4 linked regions of the Homo sapiens genome follow. The protein of the gene in region 4 purifies or fractionates together with the protein of the main gene of each other region. This does not show direct contact. Each region holds a gene or a part of one and is shown on either strand. Other genes may lie near its edges.

Region 1 (6,639 bases), on a different chromosome or scaffold from region 4:
GTACTCTAGTCCACGTGACAGAGCAAGACCCTGTGTCTCAAAAAAAAAAAAAAAAAAAGAGAGAGAGACAGAGAGAAATACTCTGCCATTTGTTACTAAAAACCAGTAAGCAGGACAAGTGTTCTTAACCTTTTTGAGGTGTTGGGCCTTTTCGAGACTCTGATGGAAGCCGTGGAGGAATGTTCTCAGTGCGTCACTCAAAATGATGCACACAACTTCAACCCAATTTCAGAGATGTATAGACAGACAAGTTAAGAACCCTGGTTTAGTGATTCTGGTGACAGCTTCCTACCTTTTTACCCATCACTAACACCACTGCCCCAGCACCTAAGTGAGGACAACAGAAAATTCCCCACACCACAGCATGAAAATCCAGTTTGGGGTGACATTCTTGTCAAAAGGTTCCCCTTCATTTTCTTCTTTTTTTAATGTCCACCTCAGAGAAGAACCACTCGTCTTCTGGCCTTCCCCTTGTACCAGCCCTTGGGAAGTATTTTTTAGATAATTTTCTGATCACCAAAGCATAGAATCCCATAGGGCAGCGTATGAATAACCTATTCTTTGACTTAAGTTTTACTAATTTATTTTCCTATTTGCCTATTCCTTTATCATTTAATTGAGTTGGGAGTTTGGGAGTGGAGAGGGAGGAAAAATTTTCAAAATCCCCAAGGACAAACTACAGGTATGTGGACAGGTGTGAGGATTATCCTGTTAATGGAGGACTCTGAACATTGTCCACCTACATCACACCACACACACAATCAGCCTCTCCCCCCTTCCCTCTCTTGCTCTCTTTCTGTCTGTCTCTCTCTCACACACACACACACAGACACACACACACACACCCACACACTTCTATGTAGCTATCACTCTAATTTCCCAAGAGCCACATCTAAGACATTTAGCTGGAAGCTAAAATTTAGCTTAGAGAACAGTATCAGTTGTTCTTATACTACCACCCTGTTCCCAAATCCCCGACCCATTTCAGAACCACTAGTAAAATCATCAGCTATAGTGTCATGGACTTTTTGGAATCCTTAAGCCTCAAATCCAATGGCTCAAGATGGAGGGGCTGGAAGGGAATGTGGGGCAGAGGCCAGGTGAGGGGTAAAGCAGGAAAGGCTTGTGAGAGGTAGGGTGGGATAACATAGATTTCTTTTTCTTCCTTTGGGTTTTCCAACCCTCCCTCCACACCGAGGAACCTCATTCCACAAAAGCATAAGAGAGAGGCATGAGGTATTGATGACTTTATTATTCTGCAGGTACATGTCCAGGGGCCCAGCCTCTGGGCCCAGTAACTCAGCTACTCTTTGTGGCTTTCTTCATGGCTTTTTTTGTGGGCTGCCACGCCCATCTTTATCACCAGAATGAGGAACTCCTGGAAGTTAACTGCACCATCAGTGTTGATATCCAACTCTTTGAACCAGACGTCTGCACCCTTTTTCTGTCAAGATTGAGGAGGAAGAAGCCAGAGTTTAAAGATCTCAGAGAGAGCCGAGGCATAGCCATCTATGAAGGGTGGCAGGGAGGACCGCTGGCCCAGGGCAGCCCCAGGACCAGGCAGAGAGCCCCCGCCACACCCAGCCCCTCCTCACCCTGATATACTGAGGACACTCGGTCTCTAGCAATTTCTTCAGGTCATCCCTGTAGACGGCATGGAAATTCCCCTTTATCAGGGAGTACTTGTGGTAGACGTCGATGATAGAGTTCAAGGCTTTCTCCAGCTCGGTCAACATGATGCCCACGGACTTGCCCCACCTGAAAAACAGAACCTTCTGGGGAATCCCATGGCAGGGAATTTGCATCTGGCCAGGGCAGTACGCAGAGGATTCATGCCCCAAGCGATGGCCTTGTCCTGGCCTGCACTCTCCAAATAACCAAACCAGCAGATGGCTATGGCTCTGGTGGGAAGGGTGGGATGATAGGGATACACGTGTGGGAAGGGGAAGGGTCCATTCACACAGAGACATGTGCACACACACGGGGCCCGTAGACTTTCCTTACCACCCCACCCTCTGCTCAAGAAAAGTCCAGCCTAGGAGACAATGTGCCCTTACCCACTGGAAGGTGCTGGAGGATACTCTCCTTCCTTATCCCTGCCTCACTCCCCACCTCCAGGAGTATCTTTGCTCCAGACCTCCCTGAGCTTTCTCTCTCCTCTCTCAGGAAGGCTGCTCCACTTCCCTGACCCTCCCCAAGAGAAGCCCAAAGTGCGGGGCCAACCCAGACAGTCCCACTTACCAGGTCTTCTGAAAGACAGCTGACAAGAGACATGCAGGGCTGAGAGGCAGCTCCTTTTTATAGCGGTTAGGCTTGGCCAGCTGCCCACAGCTTCAGGCCATCAGAGACAGCTTCTCCCTGCCAGAGTTGCTACAGTCTCTGGTTTCTCAACCAGGTGAATGTGGCAATCACTGTGCAGAATGAAAATTTTGGGTGGGGAGGTAGGAGAAGCGGAAAGAGGAAGGCATTTGCTGGGCAATAGTGCCCAGAAGGAAAAAGCAGGTAGGGGGGCTCTTTTTCTGGGCTGCTGGCATCCACTTGCTTGATCCAGCCAGATTCCCACTCCCATGCCCTCTCCACTATTGCGATTGCTAATCCCCTGCATTGGTGGTCAGGCCATACATCCCTGAAACTGAATTGAAGTTGAATGCATCATTTTGAGTGCATGCACTCAGTGAGAACATTCCTCCATGGCTTCTGTCAGAGTTTCAAAGGGTCCAAAGACCGCAAAAGGGTTGAGAACACGTGTCCTGGCTGATGGCTTTTAGTCATGAGAACTATTGTTCTCATTACTAAAAACTAAAACTATCGTTGTTGTTCTTTTGGGTGGGTGCTTTGTGGGGAAATGTGTTGTTGCCAAGGGCTATATCCATTCCTACCCTGCTGCCCACACTCCTCCACAGCTTTCCTGTTCTGTGAAGCTGGGGATGGACCATGCCCTGGGAGATGGAGGCTGCTTGGGGTCCCTCGGCACTTCACAAGGGCCTGAGCCATTGCATAAACACAGCAGGGAGCCTTTCACCCTCTCTTGGTTAATTATTGTGTCTGGGACCCCAGGATCACTGGCTGAAGAGAGGAAGCTAACTCTGAGGTAGTGGAGGGGAAGAGTTCTTTGGAGAAGCCAGACGCGCTTCATGCCTAAGAGGAGAAGAGGAGGTGGCCAATTCCCCAGGATTTCAGGAGGAACAAATCCTCTCCCCACCACTAACAAAATGCTACTCAGATTAACTGGCTTCCAACCTTGAAGACTGTGGTGTGTTTCTGTTGTTACAAAGAAAATATTTGTAAAACAAATATCTGATAAGGGATTAATATCCAGAATATAAAAGAATCCCTACAACTCAACAACAAAAAACAAACAAACCAATCAAAAATTGGGGAAAAGACTCAAATAGACACTTCTCCGAAGAAGATATACAAATGGTCAATAAGCATATGAAAATTACTAATCTTTAGGAAAACATGAAGCAAAACGACAATGAGATACCACCTGACACCTACAAGGATGACTACTACTTCTTTTAAAACCCAGAAAACAAGTGTTGGTGAGGGCATAGAGAATTGGAAGCCTAATGCACTGTTAGTGGGAATGTAAAATAGTGCAGCTGTTATGGAAAACGGCAAGTTTGTTCCTCAAATAAATAAACACAGAATTACCATATGATCCATCATTCTGCTCCTGGGTATATATGCAAAAGAATTGAATGCAGGGATTCAAACAGATGTTTGTACATTCATGTTCATAGCAGCATTATTTACAAGAGCCAAAAGGTGGAAGCAACCCAAGTGTCCCTCAACACATGAATGGATGAAGAAAATGTTTTGTGGGGACATGTGTTGTTGCCGAGGGCTAAATCCATTCCTACCCTGCTGCCCACACTCCTCCACAGCTCTCCTGTTCTGTGAAGCTGGGGATCCACCGTGCCCTGGGAGATGGAGGCTGCTTGGGGTCCCTCTGCATTGCACAAGGGCATGAGCCATTGCATAAACATAGCAGGGAGTCTTTCACCCTCCAAAATAAATCCAGCTCTCTCTGGATGTGAGCCATTGGGGACCCAGCACAGTGCCCAGCACACACAATAACAGCAGCCACAATCACTGATCAGAGCAAATCATGACAAAATACTAGTTCACACTCACTGAGCTTTTCCCATGTCCGGGAACTATTCTAAGTGCTGCTTTATTTGCATTGATCATTTAATTCTCACACTAATCCAATGACGTATGTACTATTATAATGCCCATTGTACAGATGAGGAAACTAAGCCCCACAGAGAGACATAGTAATTCAGCGTATCAAATGATTGAGTGACTCATGATGTGATGTGACAGCATCCACTTCCTATTCCTGCCTGTAATGCCTTTTGTCCCTGTAATGTCCTCCTCACCATTCCTGATCCAGCTCAGGCATCATCTGCTCCAAGTCCATCCCTGATCCACCTGCCCTCACCCCATCAAGGCAGAATTAGTTCTTCTCTCCTCCATGCTACCCAAATCCTTACCCATCACAGCATTTGCCCTGCTATGTTATGATTCACTTGTTTATTGTCTGTCTTTTCTTTGGGACCAGGAGACCATTTAGAAAAGAAATCACATTTCTTTTCACAACCCTAGGGCCTGGCAGCTACTACATGTTCAATTAATACTTATTGAGGGATAAATGAATACAAAATTAAGTTTGACCCTTCCCTTATCCAAGGCAGAAATTCTCTTTATCACAATCAGCCATCTTAAATCATTTCTGGAAGAAGGCAGGGTATAAATTCATCAAACAAATGCAGTCTGACTTCCTTGACAAAAGATGAATCAAGCTCCATCTAGGAAAACAACGCCATTTCTGACATGACAAGTTTTCAACCAAGGATCCACCCTTGGTTAATACCTATTATTCACCACGTACTATCCTATGTGACCAGCATAACAGCACCTGCCTCAAAGCACCATATCATATTTTCAAAGTATTTTGCATCCACTGACTCATTTGATATTCCCAGCAACCTAGTGATGTGGACATTACAAGTATAATTATCCCTATTTGACAGATGGGGAAACTGAGGCACAGGGCATTACTTCAGGTCCTTCCCCTGGTCCAGTGAGGGAGTCCTGAGTGGTGACCTCCTTCCCACATCATGTACAGGCTGACCAGCAAGATCGTGAAATGTCGCCCCCTCCCCAGAAACTGCGCCCCTGGACAGCCTTGGGTGCTTTGGGGACAGCAGGAGCCAGGCTGAACTGACCTTGCAGCAAAAGGTATCAGGACTTGGGTAAGCACATCTGGGGAAAGGCAGAGGCTGTAAGCAGCCTAGCGGACATGGGGCAACCTAGAGGGAGCGGAACCTGGTCATGTTTACAGGAAAGGGCTCAGTCCCTGGGTGTGTCCCAACAGACCTGACAGGTCCATCCCTGAGGCCAAGGAAATGAGGACAGAGCAGGCAGAGCTGGTGAAGAAACCCCCAGAAGGGGGCAGGAGAGGGCAGGGAGGGCTCAGGCTGGGTGCCCCTGCTTCGTACTCAATGCCTGTGGAGCCCAGCACTTCTCAGGTGAGACAGGTATTTCTCCCCTGGGCCTGCAAGAAGAGTGGCCAAAGTAACTCAGGCGATGGTCTTCATGCCTCTAGACACAGCCAGGGGCCTGCAGGAAGGAGCACAGATCTAGGTCATCAATTCCAGCCCCACAGGCCCCAATTCTGCATTCCTTCCCCAAACACCTGCTGAGCGTTTATGGGGACACTGAGGTCCTGTCTCGGCGGAGAGTACAAAACAAGCACAGTGTGGCAGAAGATGCCCTTCCACAGGAAAGAATGCAAAGGGGAATGGGGTGCAGACATCTCCCAAGGAATGGAGGGCCCAGCTAGGTCCTGAAAGGCAAACTAAGCTGATGGCAAGTGTGGGAGGGACAGCAGGCCAGGCCCGGAGCAGCAGGGGCAAATTCTGCCCCAGAGCCTGACTGATGAGAAACAAGGTCTCCAGCTCAGCTCCAGGGACAATCCACCATGTTTGGCGCAAAGGACCAGGTGGGGAGGGAACCAGACCAAGTTTCTTAAGTGACCCTGCAGTCCTGTGCGCAGGTGGTATATCACCCCCCAACACTCTTTCAAAATCCATGATTTCTATCTCAGTAAGCTCAGGACACCGGTTCCCAGACCAACCCTCAGAAAAGACAACCCTCTAAAGTGGGCTCTGGCATTTCCTGAAGGCAGAGGAGACCCTCCCTAAGGGATTCTGCATTAGATCCCTAGAGTCCCAGGGGAGAGGAAAAGGAAAAAGAAACAGAGCAAGGGCAGGGACAGGTCTCAGGTGGGTGGGGTCAGGGATACCGGAGGACTCAGATCAGTGGTTCATGAATAGCCCTGGGTCAGGAGTAACCCTCACATCCATCATCATGTTGTAGAAAAAAACAGACCCAACCCTTCTCTCCCTCAGGAAGCCTTCCTGGGTTGACTGTCACCCAGGTTCTACTCATTGCTCTTCCCTTAACATGTGTCTGTGGTTCTGCCAGGCTGGATTGTTGGCTCAGCTCCTGTCAGTGTCTGACTCAGCATGTGCAAACCCAGCACACAATATTCCCTGCAGACTGGCTCCCACCCAGGCACCGAGGTCCCATGCCAATCGCCAGCACCTGAAACCTCCACCTCATTCT
Region 2 (8,388 bases), on a different chromosome or scaffold from region 4:
TTTAAAAGTTTTATTTTTCTTATATCAGGCCTAGAAGCAACTTCCACATCAGACGCACTGTTTACAAAAAAAAAAAAAAAAAAAAAAAAGGTCCCATAAAGCCACAGGTCCTCTGCTATCTCAAACCCACAGCCTGAAGTTGTTTGAACTAGCTGCAGTAAATCCAGTTCATGGGTTTATAAACTAGCTCAAAGCATTTTCTAGACACCGTGGGCTTAGAGCGTGTAAACTTGGTGAAACTACAAGATATTTCATTATATCATATACAGACACTTTCTCCCCTAAAGTCTTGCTGAATCTTAGCCAGGAATACAAACCATATAAATACTCTTATGGAAATTCCAGAATAAGACTCACGGAGACTAATGATTTAAATTCAGAAGTCTGAAGTCTAGAAAAAAAGAACACATTTGCTTGATTTGTCCTTAATCAGAAATAAGAAAACTTCACAAATATTTTTCAAAGGATAGCCATTTTGCACTGCATACTGTGTTGCTACATACTAACCAGAAATCATGCTGCTCATATCTTAAAATCGAATCAGTCAACACCATAATCAGTATACTAAAGTCTACTGATGCTCAAAATACCCACTTTGGTATTTCTCGATCATCAAATGTGTGAGTAAAAGAGAAGGACTTCAATTTTGAAGGTATTTATGCCATGTGAAATGTCACTCCTAGGCAACAGAAAGCCTAAAGAAATAACCAGTATGTTTTGCTCCAAAAATTAAAGGGCAAGGCAAAGTGGATCTTGTGACCATAGGAAAGTGCAAATAAGAGGACACCCTGCCCTCTCTGGGAAGTTACTTCTGTGGAACTAAGTGCTTTCCCCACAATGCCACTGACACATGGCATTGGGAGTCACTCTTCCAACAGGTGAACACTTAAGAAGTTAATCTGATTTTGCCCACATGATTCTATTTAAAAAAAAAAAAAAAAACTACCGTATGTAAGGGAAAAATCACAATACCCCAGACTAAATAAGAGACTACCTAAGGACAATACTGGGCTCTATCTCCCAGTACTTCACAAAAGCTCTGCCTCCACCCTACGACCACTGATTTTCACTAACTCAGTAAATTCCACAGAAGAAGTAGATATTGAAAACCTAACTGTAACTAAAGGGTTCCTGGTTGTCTTCAGAACTCTGTAGTACTTGTTCATGGAGCAGTGTCTCGGGCCAAGTTAAAGATTCGTGCCCCATTTTGAGAGGTACAGGATCTTTACATTTAAAAGGAATTAACTTTTCTTCCCTTCACGGTAGTCAGAACACAGGCCACATTTTCTTCGATCAAGCCACAGGTGCTGGTTACAACTTGTGACACCAGTTTTCTCTTTTTAAAACAGCCATAGTCATGCCTAAGGTTACTGCTGTGCCTTTCCTATGTTCTAGGAAAAATGTCCAATTATTCAACCGAAATGCGGACTATTTAAGCTAGGCCTTTTCTGGAAAGGTACTAATGGTTCTACAGAGATGCTAATTACCCATAACTGAACGGGATTTGACTCATGCACCAGATTTGTTAGAAGTAAAAGAAGACTATTCTATTCTACCATGTTTACACAGAAGTCTAATGCCTTTTTTTTCCTGTCAAATCTCCTGTAAGAAGTGTCCCACTAAGTCCTAATAAGCCCACATCCTGACAGCACAGAAAAGAACCTCTTTCGGGTGAAACAAACAGCTTAAATCAGCCAAGCCCCTGGCACCCTCTCCTGAAGCAGCACTTCTCCAAAACTCATTTGCACCATTTATGGAGGAGAGAGTCTTGAGGGTGGGCCCCACCCCACTGGATCATCAAGCCCAATGGGGCCCCAGGGAACACACAGGAAGGGTCTGGAACACAGTTCCGTAAAATGCCAAACAGGCGTAAAAGGACAAACTCCCAGCACTCACAGGTCGCCAGGAACTGTCAAAGCCCTCTAACTCAGGGGTCCTCGGGGGAAGACTGCCTTCTGCCCCGCACAGAGAGGCAAGTCAGGCCACCACGGTCTTCGGGGATCAGGAGACGGCTACACACACTATCAACTAATAAATAATGTAAACGAAAGACTGGACCCAACAGTCACCTTCATTCATTACCCACTGGAAGACCAAGGAGCTCAGACACCAAATAGTTGGATTACAGGAGAGGAAAAGGAAACGCACCCACATACCCCCACAGACTTCTTCACACTCTTCTCCAGACGTTTCCCACCCACCCACCCGCAAACACACTCAGCTCCAGACTCCCACTCACTCACCCCCAGATGGCCCGCACGACGCGTGCTGGCTAACCCCCAAATCTCTACGACCCACGCTCGCTCGTCTCCAGACCCCACGAGGCACGCTCTTCTTCTCCAGGCTCTCTCGCACGCCTACTCCCCCGGACCTCCACGCAGAATCTCCCTTCCGCCACTCCAACCTGACAGTCTTCCAACACGCACAAGCACGCACAACTCCACACACACAACCCAGTCCGCACCCCCTCCCTGAGTACGAACCCCCGCCGCTCCATCCCCAAGTGACAGAGCCCCGGGGCGCAGAGAGGGCGGAAAGGGCGGCACTCACAGGCTCCGCGTCCAGGAGGGCAGGTCCCCGGGCAACGCAGCCAGCCCGCGCCCACCGCAGTCCAGCGAGTCCCCAGCGCAAGTGCAGGCGGCCGCGCAGGGCGCCCGCGGGCCGGCCGCGGCGGTCACCGGCTCCAGCCGAAGCAAAAGCAGCCAGAGAAGGAGAAGGCAAGGCGAGCGGCGCGGGGCCCCGAGCCCTCCCCGGACCGGCCGCGCCATCTTGTCTGGAGCGCGCTGCGAACTCCGGGCGCGGGGACTGTGAGGACCCGAACGGCCGCAGACGCGGGCGGGCCCGCGGGGCGCTCCGCTCGGCTCTAGACTCCGCACCGGGGCATGGCCCCCGCCCCAAGTTCTCTCTGCGGCCGCGGCTCCGGCACTCAGCGTGCCCCCGGTGCCCGGGCCGCTCCGGAGCACCCGGCGGGGGCCGCAAACCCCGCGCCCATCCGGGCCGGCCGGCCCGCCCGCGCTAGCTGCGAACTCCGCCGATTCGGGCAAGGTGTACCCAGCCTGCGCTCTTCGTCCGCCCGGGGCACGCCGAGTGCCGCTACCGACACCGGCCGAGGGCAGTGCTGCCGCTGCGCCTGGAAGACAGGCGTTCAGCCCCGCAGCCCGAGCTCGGTGCCGGCAGGCATCTTCCTCTGGGCTCGGAGCGCAAAGCCGTAGACCTCGGGCTGGACGGCGCGGCCGGCCCCGCGCTGGGAGGCCCCAGTGCGCCTCGCTGTCCCCACGCCGCGGCCAGAGAGCGCGCGCGCGCGCGCAGCCTCGGGTTCCGCACGGCTCCTCCGCGCAGCAAGAGTCCCGCCGACCTCGCAGCCGAACAATCAGCCGCTTGCTGTTCGCCTCCCCGCGGCCCAGCCCCGGCCGGTCCCCCAAGCCCCGCCCCCGGCCGCTCGCCCGCACACACCCCCTAGGCTCCGCGCTCCGCGGCCGCCTGCTGGCCCACGTTGGATGCTTTGCAACAGCGCCCCGCCACGCCTCCCCGCCTGCTGCTCATTGGCTGCCGGAGTCCACCGTGGCCAGCCTCGAGGGCCATTGGAGCGCTCGCTGTGATCCCGCCCCTCCCGCTTCACCGGCTACCCCGCCCCCACACTCTTTTCCCACCCAAGGTGTGAAGGGCGGGAGACTGGGAGGAGAAAGGGAGGGACGGCCCCCGCCTCTTAAAGGAGACACGCAGGTTGTTGTTGGAGAACGGGAACGCGGGCTGGGGAAAGGAGGCGTGAAGATACGCCCTCTGCGTCAAGAAGGGGAGAGAAAGTTAAGAGGGTAAAACGCCCCCGTTTTGGGGCTGTCTGGCCCCAAGGCTTTTTACGTCCTCCTCAGGCTGCAAGCAGGACTGCAGATTAGAAGCAAACCCGCGTCCGTTTTCCAGGTTCCTTCCAAAAGCGAAGACACAGGTTTAAAACTTAACACATTTCTTCCTGACTGGGACATCCTTGGTTATTTCATTAGGCGTGGTCCCCTTCCTCCTCGAGCAGCCTGGAGCATCTGCTCCTGACTTGTTCTTCACGTCCTAAATCCAGCAATATGTCCTTGATTACTAAAATGAATGTGTGCTGCAGAAACCTAGTCTCAAAGGTGCACCCTCGGCCAGGAGTGGTGGCTCACGCCTGTAATCCCAGCAGTTTGGCAGGCCAAGGCGGGCGGATCACCTGAGGTCAGGAATTCGAGACCAGCCTGGCCAACATGGTAAAACCCCGTCTGTACTAAAAATGAAAAATAAAAAAATTAGCCAGGTGTGGTGGTGCACACCTGTAATACCAGCTACGGGAGGCTGGGACAGGAGAGCTGCTTGAACCCCGGAGGCGGAGGCTGCAATGAGCAGAGACTTGTCACTGAATTGTCACTGAATTCCAGCCTGGGTGACAGAGCGAAACTCCGTCTCAAAAAAAAAAAAAAGTGCACTCTCCTTCCCAGCTAGTGAGTTGAAGGGTACTTCTAGAAATGCTGCAGCCTTTGATAAAGGGGTTGCTTTGTTGTTGTCATTGGGTTTTTGTTTTAATCAGAGTCTTTTTAAGATAATTTTCAAGAAGCCATTGTGTATTCGTAAGAGACAGAGTTAAAGGAGAAATAATAGTTAACAAAGCTTCTAACTTTTGCTCTTAAAGATCAGACCATAGTAGTAGTGTGTTACGATAGTACGTGGTAACATTAAGCAGACATACACACATTGAGAAAAAAAGAAAAAGATTACCACTGTAACATATAGCTGCCCTCTGGGCGTTTTGGTTTGCTAGTGTCTCATATCCCTTCCCAAGAGTATGCAAATTACTAACATAACTGCGCACATTGTCAGGAAGATTAAGCAGGTCAAGTCTGTTGAAAAACATTTGCTCCAGAACATTAAATCTGAGTTGTGTTTTATGGAAGTGGGGTGGGGTGGGAGGTAAAGAGGAGAAGTTGAACCTTAGGGAAAAAAGGCAAAAAAAAAAAAAAAATTAAAGGGTTTATTCCATTTTCGACACAATCTAAGAGGTTTGCTTTAATTGAGATGCACTAAATGTGTTAAACTTTCCCTCAGCCATAAGATCACCTCTTTTCTTTAGCCAAAATGTGATCTTCCTATCCCTTCCTCCCCTTTTTCCTTCTTCCCCTTCTGAATTCATTGCGCCTCATTTTTTTCTTGTTTAATTTTGCATGATCTCAGCAGTGATGCCCAAAGCAGTGCTCAAATATGTGGGTAAATCAATTCAAATCTAATTCCCAAGAAATATTATCAGAAAAATGCTGCACCTGACCCATCCCACCCAGAGCTTTAACCAGCTTTTATGTTTCATATGTAATCCAAATAAACATACACCTTCCATCTGGACGAGAAGAAATATGTCCTTTTGTTCTATCCCTTTTGGTAAATATAATAATAATAAGCAGTGGGAATGGAATTAAAAAGACCCTAAATTTATGAAGTCCTCTCAGTCAGTGTTTAAGTTTTACACAAAGAACACAAAACAGTAATTTGATGCAGAATACCCACAGCCGTTTCCTGAAATGAAACTGTCAGATCCTCCCTGTCCCCACCCCACAATAAAACAGCATATGCAGCAAAAAATGAATTGAACTGATTGAACTACTTGAGATGCTGACCTAAAATTATCTTTCAGGTTTGTCTCATTTCTAGTACTATAAAAGTGGGTAATTCTTGTAAAATGTTTTTTCAAATGTGTATGGGTGTACTTGTGAGATGCCTTTTTGGAATCTTAGTTTTCTGGAGGATAGAATTTAAGAATCTGCAAGGTGAGGGAGTGCCCACAAATCTAAAGCATCCCTTGTGGTCTGGTTACCATGCAGCCAGAGAAAAGGATTCCAAAGCCGGGGCACACTTGGGGGGACAGGGCGCCTAAGCCTTGGCAGTTCCTCTCGTCTACAGCAAAGCATGAAGTCATGTCTGCTCCCCATACCATGTATGGAAGTTTGCCCACATACTAGCAACCTGCTTGTGATTGCAATGAGAGTGTGAACTTGGAGAGCAGTGATATCCAGCTCAGGGGGGAATTCATCTGCAGCCACCACCTAAGATGAAGGAGATCTCAACAACAACAACAGCAAATGTCTAAGGGAATCTATGTCTCTGCTCATAAAAGTGCAAGTCTTGGTCCATTCAGCACAGAGCAACAGTTGATTTGGGTGCTGTAGGTCCTTATTTTCCTCACACTGCAACTTTGATCTTTCTAAATGCTTATTCCTTAAATGAGTCATCCGGGGATTTTAGATTTTCCAGTTCATTTTCATCTACCCCAGGGATAGCATGGAATCAAACCCCAGTGAGAATCTCTGCAGGTCTCTCTTGACTCCAGAAGCCCTAGCAGTTAATCATCCTAAGTTAATCATGCTTGAGAGAGGAACCCAAAATCTAAATAGCCTGAAATCTATTGGGGAGAGAAGCAAATAACAAAATAACAAGAAAGAAGGTTAACCATAGGAATTTTTTTTTTTAACACAACTTCCTGGGGACTGAATTTGTGCCAGTTTGCTATAGTTCTAGGTGGTGGTCTTTAGTGGTTTTAAAGAATGCTGAGATTCAGAGGGGCTTTCTTAATGTTAGGTGAGATTTTACACTGTGTTCAATACATTAAAAAAGCACCAGGTCACCATTCAGGAGAGCTGGGTTCCAGCCAGGCCTTGTTATGGGTGAAACCTTTGACCAGTCATTTTCTGTCTTGGAGCCTCAGTTTTCTCAAATAGAAAACAAGGGGCTGGGCACGGTGGCTCACGCCTGTGATCCCAGCACTTTGGGAGGCCGAGGTGGGGGGATCACCTGAGATCAGGAGTTCAAGACCAGCCTGGCCAACATGGTGAAACCTCATCTCTACTAAAAATACAAAAATTAGCCGGGTATGGTGGCACACACCTATAGTCCCAGCTACTTGGGAGGCTAAGGCAGGAGAATCGCTTGAACCCGGGAGGCGGAGGTTGCAGTGAGTCGAGATCGCACCATTGCACTCCAGCCTGGGTGACAAGAGCAAAACTCCATCTCAAAAAAAATATATATATAAAAGAAAAATAGAAAACAAGGATAATGGTACTTGACCTGGGTGCTGAGTGAGTAAAGAAGGATCATTTTGATAAAGGACCAAAGGGGCATTATAAACTGTTTACATCTCATTGTTTTCAAGGTGTTATTGATTTGTTAACTCTGAAAAACTGAGAGCCCATATGTATAATGTAGATGGAAAATCTTAGCAGGTTGTTTCAGCAGGAAAGTTTCTTGTCCAGGAATGTGACAAAGGGTTAATAATTAGCTATGAAACCCCTGAAGACTTGCAGGGTGATGACAGCCCTGCTTTGAGCCTGTTTTCTATCTCTCTTCCAAGGAAAATAAAACTGTGTACTCATTAACTCCTTCGTCGCAATAATCTTGTCAAGGAGATGGATGGGTGGAGAAGGTAAGAGAGGAGGCTAATGAGTCTGGGAATAGAATATAAAAAGAGAAAGATTTTGAGATCTCCCCATCCCCCATTCCAACATTTGCCTTTGGTGGAGGTAGTTTTCTTGTGCAATCTCTGGCTATTGGAATATTGGTTAATGCCCAGACAGTGCCAAGCTGCAGCTGCTGCAGTTCCACAGCAAGAATGGTTGTTGCCTGCAGCTCAGCTGTGACCCTTCACAGGATCTGCCCTCCTCCACAGAGCACCATCGACAGGGGCCAAAAACCTTTAGAGTCCACTTTCTAACACAAACTAGAACCTTGACACTTGTCCTTGCCTTGTGAATGTGAAATGTTTACTGGTTCACTGAAAGGATGAAAAAAAATATGTCAAAGGTATGAGCATTTCATAATTCTGAGATTGAGATTCTGGAGTAATGGTCATTGTAGGAGGCAGTCCCTTACCTCTGACGGTGATGATGATGGGATGGACTAATTACATCATCACCAGAGACCGCACCTCTCACTCCCAATCTGCTGCCTTTGCAAATGTCACTCCGAGAAGTACATGAGGGCGAGTGCAGGGAGGATTCAAAGTTTATGCCTCACTGCCAACCACTCAGAACTAACACTGCAATGTATATAAAGAACAGCACATTGATCATAACATAATAATAATCTTATGAAGTCATATACCTTACATTTTTCAAAGCACTGTCACATCATAACAACAGCTATCATTTACGGAGCACTTTTTATATGTCTTTCATGTTGTTGAGTGCTTTATGTACTTTTTTCAGTGAGGTAGGAGCTAAGAAAAACGTTTAAGGCCACACAAGCTAATAAGTGACAGGGCCAAGATTCCAAACCAGTTCTGTGGACACCAAAGATCTATTTTGGGCTGGGCACGGTGGCTCAATTCCTGTAATCCCAGCACTTTGAAAGGCCAAGATGGGTGGATCACTTGAAGTCAGGAGT
Region 3 (8,231 bases), on a different chromosome or scaffold from region 4:
CAGGTCCTTTGAGGCTTGGGCAGGTGGCAGTTAGGTTGCTGAGGCCAGTAATAAGCAGTGGGGAAAACCCAAGGGAGGGGGTGGGGAAAGTTCTTCGGGTAAGCCAAGAGACCCAGAGGTGCTTGCCGTCAGCTTGCAGAGTGGGGCCCGGCCACAGTGCTCCTCTGAGGGAGCCTCACTCTGCTCTCTGACCCCAGAACCTGCATCCCTCCCCAAAACCAACGGCAAGCAGCTGTGTCCTCTCCACTTGCAGCTGGAATAGGCAGTTTGATGCCTTTGCTGCGCTGGCAACAGGGCTCTCTCTCTTGGATGTCTCAGCCATGACAGGTAAGGAGAGGGTCACTGAGGGCTGGAAGATCATGGGGCAGGAGAGGAGGGAGTGAGTTTCCTGAGATGAGCCTGGTGGTGATGCAGCAGCCCAGAGTGCATGGGAGGTCCTCAGAGATGACTGATCATGCCGACTTCCAAGTATCCTGGGATCGCACCTGTTACTCTGTCTCTAGGCAGGTCGGCCACCAGCCCAGGCCATATGCCGCTGGGCATCTAAGCTCTCACGCAGAAATTCAGGGAGCATCCTCACAAACACTGCCTTGCGTTGAGTCATTATTAGAGCAGCACTTTTTCCTTTGGGTCTAACCTCAGCCTTGGCTGCTACATTAGAAACCATTTTGCCTTGTTCTAAACCACATAGGTGCTGACCTATTGGCAATTTGAGCCGAGCACCTCATCCCCCATCTCAGCACATAATGGCTCCAGGGCAGGGCCTGGGGCAGAAGGGAGGAGTCAGGCAGCCTGCCATTATCCCCTGCCAGCCTGCTGTTCAGCTCCCATCATTTAAGAATCAGCTTTTGTGTTCGGGCATAGCTCTTAGGTTCAGATAGGGCTGGGGAGGCAGGGAAGATGTAACTATTCCTATTTCACAAATGGAGAAACTGAGGCACAGCGCTTATGCTTTTTCCCCAGAGACAATGTGAAGGGCAGGAGTGAGGTATTTGTACATGCCCCTTGGGCTAAATTAAACTGAAGACAGACCTGGTTCCCACTGGAGGGCCCTGCTTCCAGGTGATGCTGCTGTTTACTGCAGTGCTTAGGAATCCCTCTGCGATCCTTCTCTTTGTCCTAGGGGAAGCAGCCCATTCTCTCCCACCTTTCTGAACTCTCAACAGCTCTACTTTGCTCAGCTTTCCCTCTGTTCCAGAGTGGTGGGTCCATCTGAGCCCACCTTCCCCTCCTGGAAGGGTCTGATAGGAAGGAAGGTGCCACCATCTTTGCACACCTGAGGACAATGCCTGGACAATGGCTGGAGGGGACTCGAGAGGGCCAGAAGGGGTCCCGCCACACAGTTCAGCCTTTCAGCCTGGCAGGGACCCTCATGGGTTTGCCATTGGGAAGGGCTGATGGATTTTAAAGCTTAGAGGGGTTCTCTCAACCTTGCAATTTACCTGAACTGAGGACCTGCCATCCATGGAGCAGTCTGACGTTAATTTAAAAAGGTTCAAAGACAGAGTTTATACCATCTTTCAAGAATCGTACTCACTTTTGCTTGTCCTGAGTTGTCCTTTAAACTTTAAGAGGGAGGGAAATGGCAGGGAGGGAAAAGGAACTGATTGGGACTGACTCCAGCCAGGAGTTTGAGACCAGCCTGGCCAACATAGTGAAACCCCATCTCTACTAAAAATACAAAAAATTAGCTGGGCGTGGTGGCAGGTGCCTGTAATCCCAGCTACTCGGGAGGCTGAGGCAGGAGAATCGCTTGAACCTGGGAGGCGGAGGTTGCAGTGAGCCAAGATCCTGCCACTGTACTCCAGCCAGGGCAACAGTGTTAGACTCTGTCTCAAAAAAAAAAAAAAAGAAGAAGAAGATCTGACTCCTCCATCTGTAGAACAACTTTTGAGCAAGTCACTAAACAGCTCCTGGACCCAGTTTCCTTCTTTGGAATGTGGGTACAATAAAAGCGACTTCACAAGATGATGGGGAGAAAGATTCTGTAAGGTGCGCCACCTGCTCAGCACCGTGCACATTTTCAGCACCTTTGCAAGCCCCCAGGAGCCCCATCTGGTCTTTGCATGATTTTACAGACTTGCTCATAGTCCCCTAGGTTGGTCTTTGCAGTTTGAGGGGTCTCAGCTGCCTTGATCAGAAGGGGGTTGTCCCTTGATCCTGCTCCTCCTGAACTCTGAGGCAGGGACACTGGCCTGAATCCAGCTCTGCCTCTTCCCAGCCATGAAGTCTTGAGCAAGTTAATAAATTTTTCTGAGTCTCAGTTTTCTCATCTGTAAAATGGGGAGAATATGACTTAATTCACAGGGTTGTTGGTGAGAATTATTGATGACACATGTGATGTGCCTGGCTTGGTGCTTGAAACATAGAGGAGTTTAGTAAGTGAAAATTAGTGCTCTCTGCCCCAATTACCCTACAGGCATGGAGAGCAGAACTCCACACATGTTCAAGGAGGGTCTGTGCTGTGGTTCTGTACAGGGGCAGGGTTGAGGATTCTCGTTTGTTCTGGAGGCCCCAGTGATAACCAGCCTTGCTGGGCTGGTGTGGCTGCTGCAGCCAATCTCCTGGCACAGGTTTCAGTGACTCCTAGATCTGTTTCCTGTGAACTCTGAGCTCAGGATCCTATAAATAGTGCTTTAATAGTGCTTCAGTGTCTTCTCTGCCTCTCTGACTTTGCAGTTGCATAACCTGAAGTTCCTTTACTGCTTTCCTGCCCACTCACATAACTCGTCGAGTGCTTCATGAAGTTTTTCCTTGCTGAAATTACATTTGCTAGGAGAGGTTGTGTTTTACAGTGCACAGAGCACAGGCCGTGGAATCCTGCAGCCTAGGTCTGAATCCTGTTTGCTCATTGGCCTGAGGCTTTAGCAAGTTATTGAACCACCAAGAAACTCAGTTTCATGTGTGTGTGAAAAAGAGGGAGAGAGAGAAAGAGAGATGCAGTAAGTCTCCCTCCTAAGGAGCCCCAGATATGCATAGCATATAGTACATTGCCTGGTGCACGGTAAGAGTACGATAATTGTTTTTTTGTTTTGTTTTTGAGATGGAGTCTCGCTCTGTTGCCCAGGCTGGAGTGCAGTGGCGCTGTCTCGGCTCACTGCAACCACCACCTCCCAGGTAAAAGCGATTCTCCTGGCTCAGCCTCCAGAGTAGCTGGGATTACAGGCGTCTGCCACCACCGCCCAGCTAATTTTTTGTACTTTCACCATGTTGGCCAGGCTGGTCTTGAACTCCTGACCTCATGTGATCTGCCCTTTTCGGCCTCCCAAAGCGGGATTACAGGTGTGAGCCACTGCACCCAGCCAAGAGTACAGTAATTGTTAACTGTAATAATAATAACAACAACAATAATAGTTTACTCATTTAGTAAGGCAACTTTCTGGGCCCTGGAGACCTAGCAGTGAACCAGAGGTAAAGCTCTTTTGCCCATGGAGTATATTCTATTATTTTTATTAGTTATTAATAACAATATTAAAATAGAACTTGGGAAGTTCATGACATAGTAGATACTCATAGTCAAAAATTATTTATTGTTAATGGGAAGGAGCTTCATAGAGGGCCTGTCATGTATGTAATAGGAACTGAGCAAAGAGCGACTTTTATGATTTCATGGGCCCCGGGGCTTGGCTTCAGCAGGGGACTCTGTGGACTAAGCGCATCTGGGGACAGTGACCAGGGCAGTTGGGACCGGAGGTGATGTCGTGTGACCTGTGTGAACTCTCTCGGAAGAGAGGGTGGAACACGCAGTTCAGAGAAGCAAGGACCAGTGGAAGCATGAAAGCTTCAAGTGTGTGTGGCCGTCTGAGAAAGGCAAAAGACAGTTCTAGGAGGAACGGGGGAAGTTACAGAAAGTCTTTTCTCCTGGCAAAGGAAAGATTGTTTTCAGCAACCGTAGCTTCTAGAAACAGATGTGTGAGCAAAAGCTGGATTGTGAAGGTTTCTGTGGCAGACGAGGGCCAGGGTCAGATAAGGGCTCTGAGCACCCCTGGGGGATTCGACCGAGCCCCGCAGCGGCGCAGCAGAGGAGAGGGAGGCAGGGCAGAAGTGGCGGGGGTGGGGGACAGTCCTTTCAAACACTGCAGCTCTGTTTTTCTCTCTGTGTCCCATACGAGGATTCTGCATTTGATTTCAGTGGAGCTAAAGGCTCTGAGGTCAAAGTACGCTTGGGGAACCCACTCGCCGAGAAGACCTCTAAGGTTTTTCCTTAGGGTCTGTGATTCTGAAGAGCTCACTCTCAGCCTGAAATTTCTCTTGTCTCCTCCCACAGATAGGATTAGTCCTAGGCCTGATCCACTTATAATATTCTCTCTTTAAATCAATTTTCTATCGTTAATGGTCTCCTGGTAATTTGGGTTTTTTTTTCCCTGAGCAGCATTGGGTATGAAACTTTAGTTTAGTCTTCTTGAAAGTCTAAGTTAATTATAGCTACTGGTTTTCCCTTTGCCCTTGGCTGAATGACCCTTTTCAAGTCATGAACCTCTTTGAGCCTCAATTTCTTTCTTTCTTTCTTTTTTTTTGAGACCGAGTCTCACTCTATTGCCCAGGCTGGAGTGCAGTGGTGTGATCTCGGCTTACTGCAACCTCTGCCTCCTGGGTTCAAGCGATTCTCATGCCTCAGCTTCCCGAGTCGCTGGGATTACAGGCGTGAGCTACTGCGCTCGGCTAATGTTTATATCTTTAGTAGAGATGGGGTTTCACCATGTTGGCCAGGCTGGTCTTGAACTTCTGACCTCAGGTGATCCGCCCACCTAGGCCTCCCAAAGTGCTGGGATTACAGGCATGAGCCACCACACCCGGCTGAGCCTCAATTTCTTCATCTGTAGAATGAGGATTACAATGTCTCAGAGAGTTGTATTAGACTGAAGGGAGATTTTGGATGTGAAAGTGCTTCTCAAAGCACAACATGGGGCCCTTGTTGCATTTGGATAGAGATGTGATACTGCCGCTGTAGCTATTATTCTCTTTAAGACCACCAGTGACTCCTACGTGTCCGGACAGGTTCTCCCAGCAGCCTGGCAAGACCCTCCTCTCTGGAGACTGGAGATGTGATCGTGAGTGATGTCAGGGTGGAGATGGGATGAAGGTGAGGGGGCTGACCTTGGCTCTATGTTTAGCCCCTTCTTGTGGACATCAGTGAGTGAGTGAGTGTCAGGCTTTGTCTGGAGTGTGGGAAAGCAGTCTCCCCTGCTCCTGTTCCATCTATGGAGTGCACAAAACTGAAGGCCTAGATTTTACATATTCTCTGAATCTTCCATGGTATCTTGCCAGTACCTAGCACATAGTAGATGCTCAGGGAACACATGCTGAATGAATGAATGAATGAATGCATACAGATTTAGAGGAAGAAACTGAGACAGCAGGATATGCTGAAAGCATTGGTTGGCTCAACCGCACCAGCGGGCGACGCCCAGCCAGACTGATGTGCAGGACATTTTGTGACAGGAGACGCGACTGCCACCCCTGGACAGGTGCGCACGCCTGGACAGGGGCCATCATGTCTCTCACCCTCTTCCTCAAGTGTTCCTTTCATCTGCTACCCTTCGAGAGTTTCTGGTTGCACGTGGATTATGCGAGGAAGCTGGAGGGTGCTCTGGGGGCCACGGGCAGGGGAGGACTGTTGCGGTTTTCCATCTTGTTTACACATTTCTCAGCTGCCGACGTGCTGGTTAGTCAGAGTGGCAGGCTGGGAGGTGGCGTTAGACGTGTCACAGGGGGATTGCCACATTGGCTCTGCCCCACTCTTCCCCTTCCCTATCACCAGGGTTTCCGGGCAGGCTCAGACCTGTGCCTCCCTCATGCCCATCCCCCTCTGGGATAAAAACACTTTAGTAACCCCTCAGATAGATCTGGTATGTTTTCCAATTGGACTTCGGGTGAGCCTTGTTTTCAGTGTCAGATAAATCAGAAATTGGTTATAGGGGATTCTGTCTTTGATTATTTACCTGTCATCCATCAATCCACTCATTCATTCATTCACATTTACTAAGTGCCTAGTCCATGCCATGGATGCCATGCCCTGTGCTAGGTTTGCGGCTAAAAGCAGAAAAGACACAGACCCTGTCCTCAAGAAGCTCCCATTCTGGTGGCAACAGGTTTAAAAGAAAATGTGGTAGATGATTGCACTTTAGGTTTGGAGGAGTTCACTGTCCCAGGGAATCCTTGCTTGGGAACTTGAAGCGTTTTACTGAGGCTGATGTTTTCACCTGAGCAGGAAGGAAGACTGAGGGCAGAAGAGGCACCTGGGAAGTCTGAGGCCGTGGAGATTTTCAGGCCTGAAAGCATTTGTCTCCTGCTGCCCTGGGGCGTTTCTGGGGCTTTGGGAAGCTTGTCGGCAGTTCCCCAGCTCTGTTTTGGGTCTGTTTTTCTCATCTCTCCCTCTACCCATGACCCCCTTGAGCTGGTCTCTCCTCATTTCTTACATTCAGCTCCTCAGATCTCTTGGGCTTTGGCATGGGTCTGGGCTAGGGAGGTGGCTGCTGGGTTCTCAGCTGCACTGAGGGAAGACTGAGAGGAGGAGAGAGGCCTGGGGTCACGCAGGAGCCCTGACATCTGAACCCCTTCTCCAGGGAAGCACCCAGGCACAGAGCTTGACCCCCAGGGTCAGGCTGGAAGCGCCCTGGGAGATGGACAGGGCCTGGGGATGCAGCTTCCACCTCGGCAGGTGCAGCTCCCATGACCTGGAGTGCCGGAGTCTTTGCTCCAGCCACAGCGAGAGCCTGTTGTCCCTATACTACCACTCTTTCTTGCTGTTCACACATGCAGTCCCCTGTGTCTGGAGCTCCTTCCTGCTTTCCCTGCCTGGAGAGAGCCTGCCCATCCTTCAGAGTCCAATGCAAATAGTTTCTCTTCCAGGACAATTTCCCGACTTCCCTAGAGAGAATCTATTGCTTTTTCAGCTCCAGGGGTACCTTGTAACCACTGCTGGTGTTATACTTGTCACACTCTGTGTTGAGCACCTGCAGGGTGAAACCTAGGTATTGGGTCCTCCCAATCCCCAGCCCCATTTAGAGGCTGGCCAATGAAAGGGGCTGATTAAATGGTGTCTGGCTGGAGCTTCTTTTGGTGGGGGGGGAGTGGTTACAGTGACACCAGGCCCTGTCACCCAGGTGGCAAAGGATCCAGGAGAGCAGGCAAAGCAAGCAGCCCCTCCTTGCCTGTCTTGCCCTTTAGGACCTTCCCACTGCCCAGCTCAGTTTACCACCTCAGAGCCTAGGATGGCACTGCCAGGGCCGAGTGGGCTTCTGGATTCTGTGCCCCAGTCAGGGTGGACCCTGCAGTGCTCCCAGCACCCCGCTGCCCGCAGGCTGGCTCCTGACTGCCACGTTTCTGAGCCCAGCCAAGCCCAGCCAAGCCCCTTGACTCTGTACCAGGCTGGCACGGAAAACAGGAGGTGGGAGGGAGGACCAGCTTCCTCCAGAGCAGCCGGAAGCGTCAGGGGGTTGACCTCAGGTGTTAACACCCACGTCTGGTGGCTCAGGGTGCGTTTAGGTCTCCGGAACAGTAATGAGTCAAGGCCAGGATAACCAGTCCCAGGGTCCCTGACTTCCCTCCAGGCCTCAGCTATGGAGTAGTTAGCATGGGACACATTTCCTTCGGGGACAGGGCTTGGGCTCTGACCTCTGCCTGGGCCTGAGTCCCTGCTCCAGCTCTCCCTAGGAATACCCAGCTTAATGGGTTCTTGGGAGAGCTGTCATTAAGACGCAGCAGCTCAAAGGACCCTGACTGTCACAGAAAGGGGCCTGTGGGGATGGAAGGAGGTAGGGAATGGAAGGGAAGGGAAGGGAGGGCTGAGCCTGGGTGTGGAGATCCCATCCTCCCCTCAGGGCTGGGAGCTATGGCTGTCAAGGGTTATTAAGCACAGGCTTAATGACAGGGTTATTCAGCACAGGCAGTATAATGGCTAGCTCCGGGGCTAGAAACTTCCTTGACCACACCGTGGAGATTGGCCATGCTGCTGCCTTGCCTTTGGGGCCCCAGGCCTGACCTGACCCCTCCACCAGTGTTCCCACCTGCCCTCCCCCGCTCCTCCAGCAATGCCCAGCTCCTTCCCTGGTGGCAAAGGGTCTGTGTTGGGTGTACTACCCAGCTGTCATTTCCTAGCACAGACTCCTCTTTAGTCCTAAGTCCTTACATCTGTGCGGGGCTTCATGGTTTCCAGAACCTACTCACATGTATTAGCTGTGTAATCTCTGCGAACCCGGTGCATGTGCGTGGGGCTGTTGTGGGTCATA
Region 4 (8,231 bases):
TTGTAATGTTTATATAATTCATCAGGTCTATGGGCCCTTATTAACAGAAAATGCCAGCATTTAATTATTTTTATTTCAAAACCGGTTTTATTGAATTCTGCAAGGAATAACTTCAGGGAAAAGAAAACACATTGAAACAGATACTCTCCTCTCTTTTCAATAAAGCCAACAGTCTAAAGATGTTAAAGAAATAAATCACATATAATGATCATCTAACTCTGAAAATTAAAACCCATTTAGGGATTATGAAGGAACCTTGATCCTGGATACCAGTCTAAGTTATTCGTCTAATATCTTTAATAATGTTTGGAAAGTAATTAATCAACTTATGACATAGATTCAAGGGCTGTCACCTTTCATTGTCATTAATGAAACTGTCTGGGATTTTATCTGCACTTTTCTGGTGATTTAAAGAACAATTTTTTTTTGGTAAGTTCTTTGAAGACCAAAAGAATGTTTAAAATCACTGGGCCTTGACGTACAGATTTCAATGAACAATAATCCAAGTATGTGTTAGTGAGACCGAAATAAAATTTAGAAATATCTTAATTTTGACAAGACAGAAAGGGAATTTTTGAAAAGTCCAAAATGCATATTCATTTATGTTAGGAGGAAGTTTTTTTTTTTGTCAACAATCTCTGCTTTGGTTACTTCTTTACATAATACAAATTACAAATATCATACTATTTGATACTCATTAAAAACAACAATAGCTAAGGTAATATTTTAAGCCCAAAGGTTTGCCTAGGTCCTAAGTGATCATATTGGCTTGCTGTCTTTGTATTAACCAGATGGTTGTGAGACCACAGTCTCACTTTGGACAGTGTAGCCATTGGCTGGAGCCATATGAATTCTGCCTGAAGTGAGGGCAGAATCAGATGAAAGTGGCTCACCTAAGACCCTCAGAGGAGCCAAAAGACAAGTAGTGAAGGCAGGCCTTGATAGAAGCTTTCCTTGAATCTTTATATCACTGTCTAAATTCGTATTTAGAATAGAAAAATACAATTCCTACATCCATGCTAGTATGAACTTTGTATAGTCAAGGACCAAAGAAATGGTTTCAAGGTAGTATCCTCAAGGAAAGCTAATATATATCCCCAGAGACAATATCCCAGTGGAAAAGGATTACAGATAACAGGTTTTAGGGCCATAACTTTTGGTCCCAACAGGAATTTATAGATTATAATGAGCTAGATATGCTAGAATATTTCAGTCATGAAAATGGTGTAAAACCTTTATAAATTTGCCTGAGTTTTCTTTTTATATTTTGATTTCCTCAGAGAAAATGGAATTTCATTTAGAGTGCCTGGGAGTAGATAACAGAGTGCTTAGAACATGCCTCTGACACTCAGAATAAAAGCTTTCTCTGCTTCTGTGACATATTCCTGCTATTCTTCCTGGTAACTGAGGGGAGGACAGACTAAGAGGCCCAATTTAGGACTGGATAGATGATAGTCTATCTTTCTCCAGAATCAAACCACATGTAACACAAGTTGGCAGAAATTTAGACTTTGTAAAGCAATGTCTAAATTTTCCCACCATTTCCCAAGGTGGGAAAATGGTAAAGGTACCATTTTCCCATGAGCTTTACTTTATTCCATACCCTCCCTCCCCCACTTTTTCTGAGACAGGGTCTCTCTTTGTCACCCATGCTGGAGTGCAGTGGTATGATCTCGGCTCACTACAGCCTTGGCCTCCCAGGCTCAGGTGATCCTCCCACCTCAGCCTCCTGAGTAGCTGGGACTGCAAGTGTGCGCCACCATGTCCAGCTACTTTTTGTAATTTTTTTAAGAGGGGGGTTTTGCTATGTTGCCCAGGCTGGTCTCAAACTCCTGAGCTCAAGCCATCCACCCACCTTGGCCTCCTAAAGTGCTGGGATTACAAGCGTGAGCCACTGTGCCTGGCCTATACACCATTTTGACCTGCCTCTTTCCTACTTAGAATTCAGGCAGCCTGATTCTTAATGGGACACCCTCTTTATGACTTAGGGTGCACTCAAGCCCATGACCCTTCAGCATATCCCGCCCACCTTTCCCCTTCCTTTGCTCATTGATCCAATATCCCATCTAAACCTCCAGGCCTTCTCCTTTATTATCTATTTTCTATATATGGCATAAGAATTGTCATAAAAAATCTTTCTTAAATTGAACTACATTTTCCCAACTGTTCAAATACTCAGGCATTCATTCATTTTTCAAGTTGTGAGACCTTTACATTGGAATTTTAAAAGTCATGTAAATACGAATGTGTACAAAAACACTGATATATGATTTATTACTGATGGTTTGGTTCCACCAATGAAATAAAAATTAGGCATGTCTAAACAAAGCTGTATAAATAAGTCAGTGCTGATACAGTGCCATCTACAATTAAATGTCAAAACAAGCTGTAATGATAATGTATTTAGTAAATCTTCAGGTTAACCTAAGAGAATCTCTATTTTAAGACCCTATTAACACAATTTTCCTTTTACCCCCCCGCCCCCTCAAGATATAAGAAATTGCCAATTCCATCACCCCAAATGTGATACTAAAACAGCATGCTTTTCACCAGGAAAGGTTTTCTGAGGATAAAAATGTGATGAGCCATTAGAAATTCACAATATGGTATCAAGAAAGATCTCAATGCCTATATTTTAGCATGATAGTTTATTTCTTTAAGAGAGAAGGAGCTGCTGTCTCCAAAGCAGCCATTCTTTAATCATGTCATTTGAAATGCACTTAAAGCTATGTCAAATTCATATAGGAAGTCTGGTTACCAGAAAATACACATTCACAAACAGGAAATCTAACTACAGCAAGAAGGTGTTTTCCCCCGACACAATAGAGTTCAAAGATGTGTCATCCATGTAATTTGGAGCAATACCCAACACCACTCTTATTGCTGAGTATTCCTCTCTCCCCTCTCCTATATTATGACAACTCGTGATTATAGCATTACGTTTTCTAAGCCTGTTTGGACTTGCTGCTCTTGCTTATACATACAAGCGACCTGCCCTTTTTCTGTGCATAGCTTTCAATCAGTAAGCATGTCAAGGTGGGAGGAAGGATGACAGGAATAGTAAAAGGGGGAAAATCAATTTTCAGAAAGCATATGGCAACAACTGAATATTTAATCAAATTAGTCTAGAAATTCCTTCCTATTTTCAGCACTCTTTGCAAGGCAGTTGCTTCATGGTGCAAAATGAATTTCAATAAATGTCATATATTTAGTTAGATGGCTTATTTTAAAAATTTGTCGAACAAGGTCACTGACTTAGAATAGATCTTATTCCAAGGTATGACAGATGGATATCAATATTGAATAGAAGAACTGACATTAGCTAGAAGTTTCTGGGCAGAAGAAAGAGTCATTCAACACTCTACAAAATACTTACTGAGTACCTACTATGTGCCAGAATAAAATGATGAATATTTGGGCTTTGTATTTATATTACAAAACAGAGAGGAAATGTGTCAAAATAATTTCCTTGGGGTTAGTAAGGATTACAACTGAGTATTACTGGTAAACAAGGACTTTAAAAAGTGCTTAAAATTTTCACATTGCATCATTCAAACATCCATACTGTCATGGTTGCAAGATTTTAGACCTAATCAGATTTTTGAGGATGCTGTTTATTGACGCTTAGCAAAAACCAACTTCCTATTTTTTTCTGGAACAAAAAGGCCTTACACAATTTTAGAGATCTCTTGGACATCAAAGAGCTTAGAGGGACATACAGTTTGTGAGTAATGATTTAAGATTTAGTGAATCAAAGACACATGGATTAAATTTCCCTTAAAAGACCCCTAGGTTTAAAATTTAATAGCTAAAATGCTGGTCTAGATACACTCTGGTCCCAATGCTGGTCCCAAGCAAAGCCAAAACCTATTTTTAAAGCTAGGTTGAATTGTCTTATGGACCCAAACCTTGGCTGGGTTTTCCTTTCCCACATGATTAGGCCTCAAAGGAGGCAACCTATCTCTAATAAATTTACCACTTCTCTTTTTCTCTGACTTGCAAAGACCATATTATTTCAAAGGTCTCAGCTTTGAATGTCTTTCTTTACATTTTTAATAAAATATTAAAAATTAGAAATCTTCCACGGTCTTATCAAACAGTTATTCCCCAAGTCATTCTTTTTTAAAAAAAAACATACATTTTCAAATTGGACCTGAGAGTCTAGGTGCTGCCTCAGAATTCCAACTATTAAGGAGTAGGAGACCATTTCAAAACAGGAATAGACCACTGATCTTAATATGTATACTGTATGTGCACTGTTTCATGATATATTATTATATTTGCATTTAAAATAGTAGGAAGAAATACAGTACATAATCTCCCTTTCTAACACAGTGGCCTTCTGGAGGGCTGCTAGCTTGGGCATTTCACTGAGATTTTAGGATTAAAGGAAACAAATTAGTGCACAACCTGTGAGCTTTTATTCCTTTGGAAAAATAGATTTTAACACTGATCTGATTGCTTTTAAAGGGCACTGGAAACCAGGAGGGCAGTGCATGTTTTGAATTTCAATGGCAGGGTAATAACAACGGGTGAAGTTCAGTCATTTCCAGAGACAGAGACAGAGAGAGAGAGAGACAGAGAGAGAGAGAGAGAAAGACAATATTCCAAAGGGGGAGTTTATCCTGAATCAGAGAACTTGGAAATGAAATTGATGCATAAAGCCATGATGGATTCAGGTTTCAGAAAACTACTACTTCAGTTTAAGAATGAAATAACTAGATTACCCTTTAGTTTAGAAACGTACATAGTTTGATGTAAAGTATGTGGGCTGATGAGTTTAGAAAAATAACCACGTGCCAATAGGAACTGACATAAAATATTGGTTTTAAAAAATTTGTTTAGTTAATTTTCTGAGAATTTTAGAAAATAAAATATTTTGTAGAAGCAGTCCTGGGGCTCTCGGGCCATGCATGCTGCTGCAATTGGGACCATCAGGAGCCCAATCTGGCTTGCAGACTTTCTGCCACTGTAAGCTGTATGGTGTTTTAAAGACACTGAGTCAACATTTTAAAATTGGGAGAGTCCTAGCTTCTCTTGAAAATCTGAAAGATACTACCACATGGGCCCATGCCATACACTGAGCCTCACAACAGCTCTAATCACGCCAAGCAGTGACTGCCCCTCTGCTTTTCCTAAGCAGTTTGTCAATCCCTAGTGAAATGGTTAGTTTTCCTCATTTAAGTTACCTGTTTGCAAATCTTGATACAGGATATAAATAGGGGAATAAGGGAAAAGGAAGAAAAGAGGAAGAAAATCCAATGCAGTGACTTAATACTGGAAAGGAAAAGGAAGGAGAGCGAGGGGGAAAGAAAGAAGTGCATAGCAGACAGAAGCTGCACACCATCAGCAACTGCCTCTTGCTGTCTTTAGATTTATACTATGGAAGGGATCAGTGAAAAAAGCCATGGGTATCCTTCTCAACAAATCCCACTGTGACAGGCTCACAGTGTGGAAAATAAGAAGGAAAATTGTCTGAATGGAGCAATATCTCTGATAGAGGATGGAGTATGGGATGGGACCAGGCGGATGCAAAACAAAACAAAACAAAACAAAACAAAAAAACAAAAAAAAAAACAAAACAACACTCTGGGTCTTCTTCTTCCATGTCTCATAAACCAAGAGATGTGGGCCACTCCTGTATCTTCATCTTTAACATGGTAGCTAATGATGGCAGGCACTGTCCAGGTATTTCCCTACAAAAACAGGGGCACTATTCAGGTATCTCCCTCCAAAATCAGGGAGTCTATGGACAGTTGTGCAAGCTGTGAACTGCACAATTTCAGGAAAAACAAGATGAGAATAGCACTCCTGAGAAGTGCTCCTCATATGCGCCTGGCTCACTTCCTTATCTCCTTCAGATTCTAGCCCAAAGCCCACCTTTGAAGACAAGCCTTCCCTGACCTCACTATTGAGTTTTTCAATCACCATCCCACTCTCTCTTATCCTTGACAGTCACTATTCTCTTTTCCATTTTATTCTACCTTGAAGCTATTATCATCACCTGACATACAACACATTTCAGTTATGTATTTCTTTATTGTTTGCCAACTCAATAGAACAGAGTGTCATGAGGTTAGAGGTTTTCATCTGTTTTATACTCTGTGGAAATGCCAGATTTTAGAACTATGCCTCGTAGGTTGTCAAAAAATTGTCCTGAATGAATGACTAAATCCTCATTCACATTCTTGGAGTACAGGAACCTGGCTTTCACGATAACTTGTGATTCTCTAAGCACATTTCATAATTGCTATCCTTAATTATATTAGGAGAGATACATTTTCAAATTCTATTGCCCATTATATAATCGCCTGTGGGCCCTATAGCTACATAATTTATTATAGAAATTAAAATCAATGGGAGTAACCTACATAAACATACTTGCACACATTTATGCAATCACAGAGAGAAATATGTGTACCTGGGTATGTGATTACAAAGTTAACTTTTTTATTTCACTGAGCTCATACCTCCTGCTACAAATGCCACACGTGATTTTTTCTCTCAATTAAGTTTTACAGCTTATAAAAGCACTTTTTTCATTTTGTCCCATGAAAAGCAAAGTAGTCAGATTTTACTGGATGTTTTTATTGAAACAAATCCCAAGCGGAATATACTAACCTGTTTAACACAGCTGAAAAGATATCTGAGAATGGGCTTTCTGATAGAAGGATAGATTACAAAATTATTCACGGCTCTTAATCTGATAACAGGAGCAGAATGCCCCACACATATGAATGAAACCTTTTCTCGGTATGTCTCACTACAAAGAAAAGAAAAAAAGAAAAGAAAAGAAATTAAAAAAAAAAAAGAGAGAGAGAACTGGAGAAAGAGAAGGTGACAAAAACTCCAGGGACTAGATATGTTATATTCATCATTTACCACTATCTTAAGCATCCCTAATGATGCCTCCATGGAAAATGTTTCCAATAGTTGATGGCTGAGGAAAGGTGGTATGGTGCTATTGAAATAGCATGGAGCTAGTCTCAAGCTCAGTTTCCTTGTCTATAACATAAGAATGTTAAGATGTTATCAGACTTGCCTATCTTGTAAGGTCGTTTTGGTATCAGAAAGGTGATGTATGCAGAAACAGCTTGAAAATGTTAAGGTTTTTAAGTTCCAAACTTTGATTTTTAAAAAAAAATTCTATTATTTCATAGCAAATAGGATGATTTTGAAAGCGTTTCTCATGTGATGTCCTCTTAATAATTATGAATTTGTGTTCATTTAATATGTGATATTTGTCTGTGTATCTAGATCATAAACTTCTCAAGGGCAGATTCCATTTCTTTCTTTTAAAGAAAATGCTGTAGTACCTAGCACATATGATACTCTACCTATAGGTCCTAGCTATTTTTGGTCAGGCAAATGTGGATCTAGCAGCAACTCAGTGTCAGTTGAGAACACATCATCAAAGTGATTCTGAACTAACATTAGTCAGTGTATCTATCATTTATTACTGAGAAGTGACTATTTATTTTGCACTGAGCAAAACCCATGAAGAAACTCTGCCCTAAGGGCTTGGTGTCAAAAACACTAGTTTCAGCATACACCAGCCAGGAAAAGAAGGCTCACTTCCGGACACTTGAGTTTCTACATACATTTTCTCCCCTTAAGAGGGCACAATGAGGAAATTGAGTATCCTATGAATAAACACAGCAGACCAAGGAAATCTTAGGGATTTAGACCACGGAAAAGAAAGCGTAGATGGCTCTGGCGAGAATCACTAAGCCTAATGCCTAAAGAAGAAACGAGCAAACTGGGCTGGAGAAATGGGGGCACGGAAGGCCTTGAAAGCAGCTCTGACCAAACCAAGGGAAAGGGTTGAGGAGGAAGAGGACAGAGAAATGGGAGGTAATCTGAATGTGTGAGGAACTGTGCTCACCATGGGGGTGTTGCCATGTCTTTGGTGCAGCCACTTGGAGAAAATAAGCCAGTTAGAGGATGTTAGCTCCTCTGAGTTATTCACGTTGTTTTGAGATGACCACATTTGAGAAAAAGTTAATTTGAGACTATTATGTAGATCTGCAGAAGGATAATATGACTAATGCTACTTCAAACACTATTTTAAAAACAGCTAAGGAAATTGATTTTTGAAATGTATTTCTTAGTCTAGCCCTCATTAAGACAATTTTTTTTTAAAGATTTCAAGATTAATGCAAGGCATATACTTACATAGTCTTAAAAGGAATTTATAAAATATGGGTATTTCTCCTGCTTAGCAAAGGGTC

The links.
Region 1: the proteins of MET (region 4) and S100A8 purify together in Homo sapiens (affinity purification with mass spectrometry; 2 studies listed by BioGRID and IntAct, with this or other methods). This does not show direct contact.
Region 2: the proteins of MET (region 4) and LRIG1 purify together in Homo sapiens (affinity purification with western blotting; 2 studies listed by BioGRID and IntAct, with this or other methods). This does not show direct contact.
Region 3: the proteins of MET (region 4) and TMPRSS4 purify together in Homo sapiens (affinity purification with mass spectrometry; 2 studies listed by BioGRID). This does not show direct contact.

The regions. Positions count from the first base shown.
Region 1 is NC_000001.11:153,388,800-153,395,438, forward strand, and holds S100A8 (protein S100-A8), read right to left. Parts: upstream 2,242-6,639; intron 2,178-2,241; exon of another isoform or gene 2,058-2,177; intron 1,776-2,057; coding exon of another isoform or gene 1,737-1,775; coding exon 1,596-1,736; intron 1,445-1,595; coding exon 1,304-1,444; 3' UTR 1,233-1,303; downstream 1-1,232. UniProt on the Homo sapiens protein: S100A8 is a calcium- and zinc-binding protein which plays a prominent role in the regulation of inflammatory processes and immune response. It can induce neutrophil chemotaxis and adhesion.
Region 2 is NC_000003.12:66,497,640-66,506,027, forward strand, and holds the start of LRIG1 (leucine-rich repeats and immunoglobulin-like domains protein 1 isoform 1 precursor), read right to left. Parts: upstream 3,384-8,388; 5' UTR 2,769-3,383; coding exon 2,551-2,768; intron 2,416-2,550; exon of another isoform or gene 2,244-2,415; intron 1-2,243. UniProt on the Homo sapiens protein: Acts as a feedback negative regulator of signaling by receptor tyrosine kinases, through a mechanism that involves enhancement of receptor ubiquitination and accelerated intracellular degradation.
Region 3 is NC_000011.10:118,078,847-118,087,077, reverse strand, and holds part of TMPRSS4 (transmembrane protease serine 4), read right to left. Parts: intron 328-8,231; coding exon of another isoform or gene 321-327; exon of another isoform or gene 115-320; intron 1-114. UniProt on the Homo sapiens protein: Plasma membrane-anchored serine protease that directly induces processing of pro-uPA/PLAU into the active form through proteolytic activity.
Region 4 is NC_000007.14:116,674,335-116,682,565, reverse strand, and holds part of MET (hepatocyte growth factor receptor isoform b preproprotein), read right to left. Parts: intron 1-8,231. UniProt on the Homo sapiens protein: Receptor tyrosine kinase that transduces signals from the extracellular matrix into the cytoplasm by binding to hepatocyte growth factor/HGF ligand. Regulates many physiological processes including proliferation, scattering, morphogenesis and survival.